Linked DNA regions of Homo sapiens: region 2 is linked to region 1. The links come from fine-mapping of genetic effects on gene expression. A gene starts in region 1. The other region holds a variant in brackets. All regions are shown on one strand. Distances are from middle to middle.

Region 1 (2,918 bases):
GTTTGAAAGCAGGAAAGAAATTTTATCATTCACCACTTAATTGGTTAGAATCTCTTACTGTGCACCTTTTAAAACCTGCTGCACATTGGACTCAAAAGGAAAACTGAACCAACGGTAATTGAGGAAATAGACTCTTTTATTTATTCATGGCTACAGTGTAAGCTCCAGTCCCTTTGGATTTTATTCCAAACCTTGTTATAATATAAAAAAGGAAGTTTACAAGACATGTCATTGCTGCTTTTACAAAAGGACATTCTATTTATTTTCGCAGGAATTCTCATGTCCCCATAAGCAGAGCTGTCACAGTGTGCACTACCTTAGGTTGTTTTATTGTTGTCATTGTTATTTTTTTCCATTTTGAGCTAATGTGTTTTATCTGTGAATAGTCTTTTACATTTTTGTATGCTGAAAATGGGCACCAAAGAACCTGTAAAAATTATCTTTTTCAATTGAATGTGCACAAATAAAAGTTTGGAAAAGGAAAACAAAAGAACTACAAAGCATTTAGCAGAAAGCTTTCATGAAGAGTTGCAATGGCTGATATTATAAAATACACATACTTTTAAAAACAAAAAATCCCTCAGGAGTTTTGTTGCCCACATCTGCTAGTAACTAGTGAAGCCAGTTGTGTAACTGCACTTAGTTTACACAATTTCTTGAACTTACAGTTTTGCAAAGACCTCAGTTGTTATGTGATTTAGCAGTTAGAGTGTACCCACAGAGAAAGGAAGCAGGAAAGTCTTCAGAGAGGGGCAAGCTGACATGCAAAGAAGCAGGTAACCAGACATTTGCTAAGCGCCTCGAAGACTGAGTGCACTGCACTGCACTGACCTGCTTCAGCTCGTTGGTAAAGTACACGTAAGTTACAGCCACACAGAGAGACTGCAGGAGCACTGTGAAGATCACGATCAGCACGCAGGTCTGTCCCAGGCTGGGTCCCCCCTGGACCTCCATCATAGCCATGATCCTGTCAGAGTCTGACTGCTGTAAGTCAGCCAGGCAGCCGGTCACTGAAGCCCTTCCTTCTCTATTCTTTTATAGTCAGTGAGGAAATGAAAGCGAATGAGTTGTTTTTCTGGGTTCTGTGGCCTTGGCCCCACCCACATCTATTGAACCTGCAACTGTCCCTCCCCTTTCCTACTGCCCAGGGACAGCTCTTGTCTCAAAGTAGTCGTTGGAAAGGAGGGAAACTGAAAGAAGCTCCTCTCCTTGCCCTCAGGATCCATGCACCCCTTATCTGCACTCACCTCAAGCCCATTTCTCTCTTCTCTTTCTTGCTCTCCTTTTGATAATGTCCTCAGCCAAAGAGGGGAGGGATTTTCTTTGCTTTTCCCTAACATATCCTCATTCTACCACAGAGCTCTAAGCCTCATGGCCTGGCTGTCATAGGCACAAGGCCTGTTTTCTAAATTATAAGATAATTTTTATGACCTGAAACTTCCATATGTGGTTTTTCTCATGCTACTGTGAGGGTGGGAAGAGGGCAGGGTGGGAGTGGATAAAGGAAAATAGAAATACTGTCTCATAGCAATGGTCTTGCTACATAATTCCATCTTGAATGTCAGAATCTAAATATTGACGACTTCTTCCTCTTTGCAAACCTTCAGACACAAATTCTAATCTCCTTCTCAGATCTCCATCCCTACCAAGACAACATGCCTGTGTGTTAGGCTGGACAGGTAGGAAGTAGTTGACACACTCAGAAAGGCAAAGGAAAAAAACATGTGGATGTTTTCCAAAATATTAACCCCATCACAATGTCTCGCTGTCACTATCCTTTTACAGATTAGGAAAAGAAGTTACAGGGAGTTAATTACCCTCAGATTCAGGACCCAGCCCCAAATCTCCCCACTATCAGATGTCATAAGCTGGCCCAGCTGTATGTTGTCTCTATATCTTATTCAGCATTTCTTTCTTTCCTTTTCTTCCTTTCTTTCTTTCTTTCTTTTCTTTTCTATTCTTTCCTTCTTTCCTTCTTTCTTTCTTTCTTTCTTTCTTTCTTTCTTTCTTTCTTTCTTTCTTTCTTTCTCTCTTTCATGTATTTATTTATTTTTTTGACAGAATCTCACTTTATCGCCCAGGCTGGAGTGCAGTGGTGCAATGGCACAATCTCGGCCCACTACAACCTCCACCTCCCAGATTCAAGCAATTCTCCTGCCTCAGCCTCCCAAGTAGCTGGGATTACAGGTGCATGCCACCATGCCCAGCTAATTTTTTTGTATTTTTAGTAGAGATGGGGTTTTACCATGTAGGCCAGGCTGGTCTCGAACTCCTGACCTCAAGTGATCCTCTTGCTTCAACCTCCCAACGTGCTGGGATTACAGGCATGAACCACTGCATGGGGCCATTGTTTAGTTATTCCATTCTTGACCCACTGAGTCAGAGTTTCTGGCAGTGGACTTAGGAACCTACATTTTTCAGCAAGTACTCCAAGAGATCCTTTGAAACCTAAAGTTTGGGACCCTAGATCTACAGTTACATTCCTGAGTTCATTCAGGCACCGCTGGTCACCATCACTTCCTGCCCTTGCCTTCTATCTGTAAATGAGTCTATATTTAAGAAAATATTTTCAAATTTTAAATTTGCCTCTGTCAAATTGCCAAATTTTTAAATGCAAATTCCTTTCAGACACAGACAAATTGGCAAGGTAGCATTTTTCCTACTAAAAGTTTTAGACATTATGTGAACCTAACACTATTTGAACACACTTACACTCTAAGTCCTAGACTGAATGAGTTTTTTAAATCAGGTGAAAGATGAGTAGGATAACCGTAATGCACAAGACACACAGCCGGGCAGGGCAGAAACAAGAAACGAGAGATGGCAGAGAAACACAGGGGAGAAGACCAAAGAAAACCAACTTAACACCTTTGTTATAATCCAGAAATAGAAACATTACGGCTATGATGTACGTGAAA
Region 2 (2,918 bases), 57 kb after region 1:
GAAGCAGAGCATAAAAGTTTGGAAAAATTGCAGCCTGACCATGCAGTAGAAAAGAAAAACCCATTTTCTGGGGAGAAATTCAAACTGGCTGCAAAAATTAGCATAAGTAATGAGGATCCCAATGTTAATCACAAAGACAATGGGGAAAATATCTCCAGAGCCTGTCAGAGATCTTGGCGGCAGCTCCTCCCATCACAGGCCTGGAGGCCTAGGAGGTTAAAAATGATTTATTGGGCCAGGCCCAGGCCCCCACTGCTGTGTGCAGCTTTGGGACTTGGTATGATGCATCCCAGCCACTTTAGCTCCAGCCATAGCTAAAAGGAGCCAATGTACAGCTCAGGCTGTGGCTTCAGAGGGTACAAGCCCCAGACCTTGGCAGCTTCCCTGTAGTGTTAGGCCTGTGGGTACATGGTAGTCAAGAATTGAGGTTTGGGAATGTCTGCCTAGATTTCAAAGGAGGTATAAAAATGCCTGGATGGCCAGGCAGAGGTCTGCTACAGGGGCAGAGCCCTCATGGAAAACCTCTGCTAGGGCAGTGTGGAAGGGAAATATGGGGTAGGAGCCCCCACACAGAGTCCCCACTGGGGCACTGCCTAGGGGAGCTGTGAGAAGAGGGTCACTGTTCTCCAGACCCAAGAATGGTAGATTCACCTCCTTCTTGCACCGTGCACCTAAAAAAGCCATAGGCACTCAATGCCAGCCTGTGAAGAAGCTACTCAAGGCCATGGGAGCCCACTCTTTGCATCAGTGTGTCCTGGGTGTGAGACATGGAGTCAAAAAAGATCATTTTGGAGCTTTAAGATTTAAGGACTGCCTTGCTGGATTTCAGACTTGCATGGGGCCTGTCGCCCCTTTGTTTTGGTTAATTTCTCCCATTTGGAATGGGAGCATTTACCCAAGGCCTGTCCTCCCATTGTATTTAGGAAGTAACTAACTTGCTTTCAATTTTACAGGCTTATAGGTGGAAGAGACTTGCCTTGTCTCAGATGAGACTTTGGACTGTGGACTTTTGAGTTAATGCTGAAATGAGTTAAGACTTTGAGGGACTGTTGGGAAGGCATGATCGGTTTTGAAATGTGAAAAGACATGAGATTTGGGAGGGGCCAGAGGTGGAATGATATGGTTTGGCTCTGTGTCCCCACCAAATCTCATCTCAAACTGTAATCCCCACACCTCGAGGGAAGCACCTGTAATCATCACATGTCAAGGGAGGGAGGTGATTGGATCATGGGGGCAGTTTCTCCCATGCTGTTCTCATGATAGTGAGTTCTCGCAAGATCTGATGGTTTTATAAGTGTTTGGAAGTTTTTCCTTCACTCTTCTCTCTCTTGCCACCATGTGAAGAAGGTCCTCGCTTCCCCTTTGTCTTCTACCATGATTATAAGTTTCCTGAGGCCTCCCCACCCATGTGGAATTGTGTGTCAATTAAACCTCTTTCCTTCATAAATCATCCAGTCTCAGGTATTTCTTCATAACAG[C/G]GTAAGAACAAACTAATACACAACCTAAGCCTTCCTCTGGAAATTGTGAACCTTAGATTACTCCAGAGTTCCAAGATAGTTAAGTCATATTCTGCCACTGCATTAGTTGGGTAGGTCAGGAGAGAGATTCCTGGTTCTTCCTACTCTGCCATTTTCCCAGAATCTGCTTATTGTCTCTCTTATTCTGTTGGGCCTGCTGTAACAAAATACTATAAACTGTGTAGCTAACAAATAACAGAAATTCACAAATTTGTATTATTGCAAATAAGTGAAAATTACCTTGCAACCACATACCATACTTATCTGAAGAACTTAAAAACTCTCTCAAGTATAGAAATGCAATACATTACAACAATCTTCTTCCACTTTGAGTTACTTCTCATAATGAAACCACAGAGAAACAAAAGTGGCGCCTTAAAAGAAACTGTGAAAAGAAACTTTAAGCTTCTGTTTGTTCCTGGAATAGATTTGAATCAAATTTAGGAAGGAAGCTCTTCCTCTTGAAAATTAACTGCATGAAAACAAATCAGAAGAAACAAAAGTCAGTTATATAATGTTGGCAGACAAGGAATTTAACCATGGAGAGGACAGTCATGTAGTTCATTTTATGTTATACTAAAATGATACTTTTTTCCAAAGTAGGGTAAAGATTTTCAAAGTTACATTCAATTTGTGACATATTGACTTCCTTTCAAAAATTGCCTTATGAATTACCATATGAAATTTTTCCAGAATCTTTGAGGGACTTAACCTAAGATTTTCCCCTCAGTATACAACAGTGACTAGATTTTTTCTGCCTGTACAGCACTTCAACTACATGGAACAGGTTAAGTCTTGTTTGATAATTCGATTCGTAAAGGTACAAAATGATCATGAACATGCCTGATCACCATATCTGAAACTCACCCTAATCCTGTAAAATGAATACTACTTTCCTTCCTATTTCAGCCTCATCCCAAGCAAAAGAAAAAAAATTTTGAGGCACTACTTATTTTTTATTATGCATAAAAATTTACACATAATTATACATGTGACAAATGTAAAACAGCATGCATTCACCAATATAATATCGGAATAATTTCACTTCCCTAAATATCCTCCATGTTCTGCCTATTTATCCGTCCCTCCCCTCTAGCCCCTGGCATGTATTATAATAAATGTTTGCTTACTACCAGATCATCTCAGGGAGCACCAGTGACATGCAAATATAATTTTGGAAACAATGGACTAAAGTTGTTTAAGCCATGCACAAGTGGCTGCAGTTTATCAATCGAGGTAGCAGCTTGAATTTTTCTGAGAAAGAAGATTATTGTTTCTAAGTATAGCTTAAGTGGCAGAATGTGAGTCTAGAGATGCTGATACCCATATGTTACCACATGGAGAGAGGTCTCATAAGAATGAGGTCAACATGGAGGTGGGAGATGGAGTGGAAGACTGAGA

The links. PIP is the estimated chance that this variant, and not a neighbour inherited with it, causes the effect.
Region 2: its variant is the best candidate, but not a certain one, in a credible set for the expression of TNFSF10 in CD4 T cells (BLUEPRINT, PIP 0.71).

What each region holds. Positions count from the first base shown.
Region 1 is chr3:172,522,422-172,525,339 of GRCh38, forward strand. It overlaps TNFSF10 (TNF superfamily member 10), which reads right to left and starts at 1,009. Exons shown (of 5, transcript NM_003810.4): 1 at 832-1,009. The coding sequence starts at 963. It also overlaps the pseudogene TBPL1P1. RefSeq lists an enhancer at 941-990.
Region 2 is chr3:172,578,967-172,581,884 of GRCh38, forward strand. All of the region lies in intron 2 of LINC02068 (long intergenic non-protein coding RNA 2068), which reads right to left. Among named protein-coding and RNA genes, the nearest start is that of LINC02068, 15 kb to the right of the region's middle. The variant C/G (reference allele first, on the strand shown) is at 1,479.